2 linked regions of the Homo sapiens genome follow. The protein of the gene in region 1 purifies or fractionates together with the protein of each later gene. This does not show direct contact. Each region holds a gene or a part of one and is shown in the gene's direction. Other genes may lie near its edges. The genes, in order: RAD51C and CACNA2D3.

Region 1 (3,807 bases):
GAGATCGTGCCACTGCACTCCATTCTGGGCGACAAAAGTGAAACTCCTTCTCAAAAAAAAAAAAGGAAATTTATATTCAAGTTCTTATTCTTTCAATTACTTATAAATTAAATGGCTTATGGGTTGACTGTTTTCTTATTTATTTATTTATTTTAAGATGGAGTTGCGCTCTGTCACCCAGGCTGGAGTGCAGTGGCATGATCTCAGCTCACTGCAACCTCTGCCTGCTGGGTTCAAGCAATTCTCCTGCCTCAGCCTCCTGAGTAGCTGGGACTACGGGCATGTGCCACAATGCCCGGCTAATTTTTTGTTTTTTTAGCAGAGATGGAGTTTCACCATGCTGGCCAGGCTGGTCTCGAACTCCTGACCTTGTGATCTTCCCGCCTCGGCCTCCCAAAGTGCTGGGATTACAGGCATGAGCTACAGCGCCCGGCCTATTGTTTTCTTTTTCTTTGTTTTATTTATTTTTTGGATGTGCGGTCTTTATTCTTTCCAATAAAAGTTTTAAAAAAAATGCTTTTCATAAGATTTCCTTTAAATGAGTATATTTCCTTTAAATGAGTGTAGTCAGCTGGATTTTTTTTTTTCATGGAGGTACTAAGTGTCCCATTTCGCTGATGACCAGCATGGTTACTGAAAGCCCTTTGGACCCTAGCAGAATATGCCACCCTGAAATATGCCACTTTGGCATAAGGATTATTTTGAGCTGAAGGCAATTGAAAAGAAACAGATAAATCTGTCTGCCCTTCCTAAAAACAGGACATAAATGCACAGAAGAGTTCCATCTTCCCTCTCTTACAGGAAGACAAAAGTTAATCACCACAGACAACTTTAGACCATTATCAGCGTACATAACAAATTTTACTAGCTATCTTTTATCTCCAGTTAGTTTCAATATTTGCTGCCTTTAGAGACTTAGGGTCCTTTTCCTTTGTCTTGTTACTTCTCTAAAAATTTACTGTACCTTCGGGACGATAAGCTCAAATCTTTTTTTTTTGAGACAGAATCTGGCTCTACCGCCCGGGCTGGAGTGCAGTGGCGCAATCTTGGCTTACTGCGACCTTCACCTCCCAGGTTCAAGCGATTCTCCTGACTCAGCCTCCTGAGTAGCTGGGAGCTGCGAATACAGGCACGTGCCACCATACCTGGCTAATTTTTGTATTTTTAGTAGAGACAGAGTTTCATCATGTTGGCCAGACTGGTCTCAAACTTCTGACCTCAAGTGATCCTCCTACGTCGGCTTCCCTAAGTGCTGGGATTATGAGTGTGAACACCTGTGCCCAGCTCCAAATCTAACCAAACTTTTGAGTTACTAATCTCTGGACTCCCCTGTGTTGTTACATGCACTATGCACAATTAATAAACTCTTTCTCTTGTTAATCCATCTTTTGTCAGTCCGATTTACAGGGCTCCAGCCAAGAAACCTAAGAGGGTGGCAGGAAAAGGAGTTTTTCTTCCCTTATACCTTAAAGCTACCTATTTCACAATGTGTGTTTGTAATAGTGTCTTAAAACCTTACTGTAACTAGAGTAGGTGTAGCACTAGGATATAAAGTTTTTATTTTTATTTTAATTAATTAATTTATTTTTTAAGATGGGGTCTCAGTCCATCATCCAGGCTGGAGTGCAGTGGCGCGATCTGGGCTCACTGCAAGCTCTGCCTCCTGGGTTCACGCCATTCTCCTGCCTCAGCCTCCCAAGTAGCTGGGACTACAGGCACCCGCCACCACGCCTGGCTGACTTTGTATTTTTAGTAGAGATGGGGTTTCACCATGTTAGCCAGGATGGTCTCGATCTCCTGACCTCATGATCTGCCCACCTCAGCCTCCCAAAGCGCTGGGATTACAGGCGTGAGCCACCACACCTGGCCTAAAGTTTTTAAATGATTGATATGAGATTAAATTGTCATTGTTTTGGTGAAAATTTGACTCTGCTAAGTGTCTATTTGCAATAGGAAATGTTTTCTATTTTAAAATATAGCTTCTTGTTTTTTCAGTGTTAATATTTAAGTACATTTTATTTATTTTTAATATTTTACTTTTTGTGAAACAGGGTCTCACTTTGTCATCCAGGCCGGATTGCAGTGGCATGATCACAATTCACTGCAGCCTTGACCTCCCTGGGCTCAGGTGATCCTCTCACTTCAGCCCCCCAAGTAGCTGGGGCTACAGGTGGGCACTACCATGCCCAGCTAATTTTTTTTGCATTTTTTGTAGAGACGGAGTTTCACCATGTTGCCCAGGCTGGTCTTGAACTCACGGGCTCAAGAGATCTGCGTGCCTTGGCCTCCTAAAGTGTTAGAATTACAGGCGTGAGCCACCACGCCTGGCTAAGTGCATTTTAAAATGCAGTAACTGGCCGGGTGTGGTGACTCACTGCCTGTAATCCCAGCACTTCGGGAGGCAGAGGCAGGCAGATCACGAGGTCAGGAGATCGAGACCATCCTTGCTAACATGGTGAAACCCCGTCTCTACTAAAAATACAAAAAATTAGCCTGGCATGGTGGCGGGCGCCTGTAGTCCCGGCTGCTGGGGAGGCTGAGGCAGGAGAATGGCATGAACCCAGGAGGCAGAGCTTGCAGTGAGCTGAGATCACGGCACTGCACTCCAGCCTGGAGGACAGAGCAAGACTCCGTCTCAAAAAAATGAAAAAGAAAAAATGCAGTAACTGATTGGTTTCTCTCTGAAATATGTGCAAAATCAAACTTTTTTTTTTTTCTGAGACAGAGTCTTGCTCTGTCGCCCAGGCTGGAGTGCAGTGGCGGGATCTCAGCTCACTACAACCTCCGTCTCCCGGGTTCAAGCCAGTCTCCTGCCTCAGCCTCCCGAGTACCTGGGATTACAGGCATGCACCACCACACCAAGCTAATCTTTATATTTTTAGTCGAGATGTGTTTTACCATGTTGGCCAGGCTGGTCTTGAACTCCTGACCTAGTGATCCACCCAGCTTCCCAAAGTGCTGTGATTACAAGTGTGAGCCACCACGCCCAGCCTCAAACTGTTTGTTTTAAACATCCAATCTAAGAAAGATTTTATATAATTGTTGCCAGTTAAATATCAAATTATACTATAGCATTCAAGAGAAAAAATGCTTCATTTGAACATTTTTTCTAACTGTGTTTTATTTTTTTGTTTTTTTTTTTGAGACAGAGTTTTCATTCTGTCACCCAGGTTGGAGTACAGTGCCGCTATCATTGCTTACTGCAGCCTTGACCTCCCAGGCTCAAGCAATCCTCTCACCTTAACCTCCTGAGTAGCTACGACCAGAGTTGCACACCATCACACCTGACTAATTTCTGTATTTTTTGCAGAGATGGGGTTTTCCATGTTGCCCAGGCTGCCGTTAACTCTTAATTTGTAGTCCTATAGAAAAAAGCAAGAAAGAGAAACTTCCATTATGTTACTTCTGTTCAATGAAGCCAGTGACTAGAAATATGAAAAGGCAGGCATTAAAACACTAGTTGTATATGTTTATAAATAATTTTACATAGCCTAATATGTAAGGAAACAGTGGAAAAATGTGAAAATAATAGATCAGGTCGGGTGTGGTGGTTCATGCCTGTAATCCCAGGCGTGAATTTGGGAAGCTGAGGTGAGCAGATCACTTGAGGTCAGGAGTTCAAGACCGGCCTGGCCAACAAGGTGAAACCCCGTCTCTACTAAAAATACAAAAATTAGCTGGGCATGGTGGCGAGTGACTGTAATCCCAGCTACTCAAGAGGCTGAGGCAGGACAGTCGCTTGAGCCCAGGAGGCAGAGGTTGCAGTGTGCCAAGATCGCATCACTGCACTCCAGCCTGGGTGACAGA
Region 2 (4,464 bases), on another chromosome or scaffold:
TTTTTCCAGGGACTACTGGAAAGGAGAGCCGGCCTGGCTCCTAGCCGGACACCACCTGGCGGAAGCTGGAGCCCGCCCTTACTTCCCTGCAACCTGAGGATGCTGAGGCCAAGGGCGGGTGACGGGGCAGAAAGCAAAGCCCTGGTTGCAGAAAGGCATGCAAATATGAACCCAGGTGTCTGGTGCGCCGGGAGCCCCGGCGACGTTAGGAGCGCACTCCTTGCTGGGGTCACCGGAGTTGCGCTTGGCCGGGCAAGGATGACTCAGCCTCACTCCGGTCGGTCTTTACCGCCAGCCTGCGCGAGGGCTCCACAAAGTTCCCAATCACACCCCATACCTCGCACGGGGGAGAGGGGTTCTGCAAGCTGGGTCCCGGGGTGGGGGCAGCGGCGAGAGAGGCGGGGAGAAGCCTGGTTCCCAGAACGCGCAGGGGCTTCTCCGGCTTCCTTTCTCCTCGCCCCTGAGGGCGGCGAGAAGGCGCCTCCTCCGGCGCTCACTGCCTCCTGCCCAGTGCGGTGGGCGCCGGAGTGGGGAGCAGGCAATCCCCCAGGCTCGGAGAAATCTTTTATCCCGAAATCCAGGGTGTCCCCCGGTCAGGATCGACTCGGCGCCGCGTTGGCTTCCTCGCTCAACCCTGACATCCCGGTCCCCACCAGTCACCGCAGCCGGGCGGACTCCGAAGGCAGCGGCCGCTGGGGAGCCCCGGGGCCTGGGTCGGGCGCGCAGGGGGCCGCTGCGCTGCGGCCGGATGCCGGGAGCCCCGCGCTGGTGCGCCCAAGCCGTGGTGGCAGCACCGCCCTCCGTGCTTTCCCCTGTCGGGCGCCGCGGCCGGAGGAGCAGCTGCGGGCGGTCACGCAGCGCTGCCCTAGCCAGAGCCCCGAGCTCCCACCCAGTCCCATCCCCAGCCCGATCCGCCCCGCGTGCGATCCCGCCTGCCGCCGCGAGCCTGTGCTCCTTTCTGAGATTTCTGCTTCTTCCCCAGCTCCCTCCCCGCAGGAGAATCGCGCGGCGGGGGCGGAGGGCGCGCCCCCTTTAGGTTCCGCGGCCCCCGACCCCGCCCGGCCCAGGGGCGGAGCGGGCATGCTACGCCCTCTCCTAGCAGCCGCCCGCAAAGTGCGGAGCGCCGCGCCCTGCCCTCGGCTTCCCTCCCGCGCCCCCAACCCCCACCCTGGCTAGGGTCGCCCGGCCCGGGGCCAGCCCCAGAGTCGCGCCCGCGGTGGCGGACTGCGGAGTTGTAAAGAACTCAGCGGCCGCAGTAGCCCGGGTGGGGCAGGGCGCGCTCCGCCGCGGCCAAGGACACTGGAGTTTCCGAGTCCCCGCCCGCGCGGCGCCTCCTGCCCCGCCGCCCTCCCGCCGCGGCCCGCCGGACTCCCCGGGGCCGCCGAGGCGGGGCCGGGCGGCTGCTGCTGCTAGAGGCGCGTCTCGCTGCCTCCTCCCCCGCCCGCCTCCCTCCCCACCTCTCCTCCCTCCCTCCCCACCTCTCCTCCCTCCCTCTCCTCTCCGCCCTCCCCGCCCCCCCCACCCGCTCCTTTTTCTGCTCCCCAAGTGAGCCGGGCGCGCGAGAGGCAGGCGGGGCGGCGCGGAGCGGAGCAGGCAGCCCCGCGCGCTCGCCCACCGCCCGCTCCGCGCAGCTCCCCGCGGCCGCTCTCGTCGCCGCCGCAGCGGGCGCGTCGGAGGGAGCCCAGCATGGCCGGGCCGGGCTCGCCGCGCCGCGCGTCCCGGGGGGCCTCGGCGCTTCTCGCTGCCGCGCTTCTCTACGCCGCGCTGGGGGACGTGGTGCGCTCGGAGCAGCAGATACCGCTCTCCGTGTAAGTGCCGGCTCCTGCGCCGCCCGGGGAGGGGACCTTGCCGCCTGCGACCCACTGTGCCCAAGTTTGGGCGCCTGCAGGTGCGGCTGGGCAGGACCCGCCGCGGGCGTCGGCCTCGCCGCTCGCACCTGCCTTTCGGGACCCGCGTCGGGCGGCGAGGCCGGGGTGGGATGCTCTGGCCCCTGCCCGCAGGTTGCCGAGTGAGATCTGGAGAGGCTCACCTCAAGTGACGGCACCAACTTTGGAGCCTGGTTACCGAATCCAACTTCCATGGGCCGCTGAATTTCCCCCCTCTTTGCTCTACTGCCGCCCCACTTCTTTTTTTGGGGGGGGGATGGGTGGATTTCTTCTGACTGCTATTTGCCAGGTGATGCCCAGTTTGGGGGGTCGAGTCCTCGGGCAGTGGTTCGAATGAAACTCAGTGGTCTTTTTAGAGAGCCTGGGAGACTTTGCGCATTCTTAACTCCGCGACCCCCCTCGGGCCCCCTCCCGCGCTGCGCTTTGCAGTTTTGGTGCTGGCAGTTTCTACCAAGCCGCTTTTTCTATCTTTTCTTCTTTTAAAACATGTTACATCGCACTGCTCCTTCAGCCATAGTCCCATGTGTGCGTGTGCGTGTGCGTGCGTGTTGACTGTGACACGGGTGTTACATATCTTCCTGTGCCCCTTCTCCCTGTAGGGTGAAGCTCTGGGCCTCGGCTTTTGGTGGGGAGATAAAATCCATTGCTGCTAAGTACTCCGGTTCCCAGCTTCTGCAAAAGGTAAGGTTTCTGTGGTGGCAGGAAGCGATGATTTTTCCGGCACAGAAAATGGAGGCAGATTTAGTTTTCCAAACAAACGTGAGCCCCGAGCAGCATCAGTTATCGGAGGACTCTCTGATCCCCGGGTTTCTTGGCATTGTACTATGCAGTGACTTCTTCCTACCAACCGGTTATTTTTAGATGACACTTGATTCTAACCACAAAGAAAAGCAGGATACTCACTCGCACTGTCCTGGCTGGGGCTCGGAAACTGAGTGTTTTTGCATGGCTCTCGTCTCCGTGTCGGTATTGCTGTTTCAGTGCCAGAGCAGATGCTCCTCGGGCCAAAAAATGCTAACTTCATCCAAGGGGCAGACTCAGTGCCTATTTTGTGATGCCTTTCACCTTGCGTTGGAGGCGTGGGGTTCAGTGTATCAGAGAAAGACGCTGCACTATTGTTTGTCATCCCTGCAGTTGTACAATCCCATTATTCCCCAATCATCTAGACCCAGGGCTAGGATGCATTACATCATTGCAGATAAGGAGAATGAATGTGGTTATCTTTCCACTCAGCTGCACTGCCGGGTAATAACCTATGAGAGTAGTCCACAAACTTAAGAAATGGGTCTGCATCCATGTAATTCTGGAGAGTAATGAGAATGGAGAATTGATTATTAGGTTCTTATCACAAGCTGCATCAATTTTAATTCAAATAGGCAGCATTTTAAGCATAAGCTTAAAATTACATTGTGAGATAAATGGTCCTTCGTTCTCCCCTTCAGGAAATAAAGAAAAAAAAATGGGTCTGGGAGGAGAGATTAGAGGGGTTCAAAGAATTTCAAGTTAGCAGATCAACAGGATTAATCAAAGTATTCTCTTGATGATAGAAAATAAAATTGGCCTTTAGGGAATAATTCTCTGAAAATGGGTACAAACAGCTTAAATTGTTAAGTTAACTTTTAAACATTTTAAAATATGATTTTTGGGCCAATGTACCATATGTGTTATGCATGCTGCCTGGTAACCAAGTACGTATTTTATTTATGGCATTCCCCTTCAGAGAGTAGCATTTTTGGGGACAGTATATGAAACAGTTTGCCACATGAAATCCAAATATCGTAATAAAGCGTTGGCCCACCATGGAATGACAAAAGTTATTATGGTTTAAAAATCGCCAATAGCCTTATTCATTGAAACCTTATTCATTGAAAGATTGCTTGCTCAACTCTGTTGTTTGGGAAGGTGTTCTTGAATTATAGGCAGTTGGTAAACAGTTGAGGCTACGAAATGCCCTCGTGGAAGATGAGAATTTACATACCTGTGGCCCACCTCGGCACTTAAAGGAATTGCATAGGAATTGCCTCTTTCCCTAGTATTCTTTTAATCTGGACCAATCTGTCTCCTGCTTTGGCATTTTGCCCACTTGTCAGATGTTTGATGTGATGAATTCTGGACTGTAGCATTGCCTTTATATTTTTCTTATGCTTTTAAAGAAGATAACATTTTGTATAACTTTAAAGAAGTATTTCTCATCTGCACGTTGTAGTTGTAGCAACTCTAAAAGAATCCCTTCAGAGCCTGTTAATATTTTTTGGTTGTGCTTTCATATCTTTTATCCCACATTTTCTAGGAACACATTAAATATGTTTTTTTCTTTCTCTTTGAAGTTACACACACACACACACACACACACACACACACTGCACAAAACTCCGTCAACCTTATTATTTGCTACTCTATAACAGCAAATTGGAAAAGGCTGAAATGCTTCTCTTACCTTCTCATCAGCATCCTTTCTGATATTGAATTCACTAGCTTTGCTTTGCTTTTGTCATGTTTGCAGCTTGACAATTGTGTAATTATTTCCAGCTGTTTATGGCTTTGTTATCATTTCTTGCTGCTGCCTGGCATTTTGTAA

Evidence for each region.
Region 2: the proteins of RAD51C (region 1) and CACNA2D3 purify together in Homo sapiens (co-immunoprecipitation; one large-scale study listed by IntAct). This does not show direct contact.

The regions. Positions count from the first base shown.
Region 1 is NC_000017.11:58,698,871-58,702,677, forward strand, and holds part of RAD51C (DNA repair protein RAD51 homolog 3), read left to right. Parts: intron 1-3,807. UniProt on the Homo sapiens protein: Essential for the homologous recombination (HR) pathway of DNA repair. Involved in the homologous recombination repair (HRR) pathway of double-stranded DNA breaks arising during DNA replication or induced by DNA-damaging agents.
Region 2 is NC_000003.12:54,121,028-54,125,491, forward strand, and holds the start of CACNA2D3 (voltage-dependent calcium channel subunit alpha-2/delta-3 precursor), read left to right. Parts: upstream 1-1,524; 5' UTR 1,525-1,686; coding exon 1,687-1,808; intron 1,809-2,029; exon of another isoform or gene 2,030-2,415; intron 2,416-2,485; coding exon 2,486-2,567; intron 2,568-4,464. UniProt on the Homo sapiens protein: The alpha-2/delta subunit of voltage-dependent calcium channels regulates calcium current density and activation/inactivation kinetics of the calcium channel.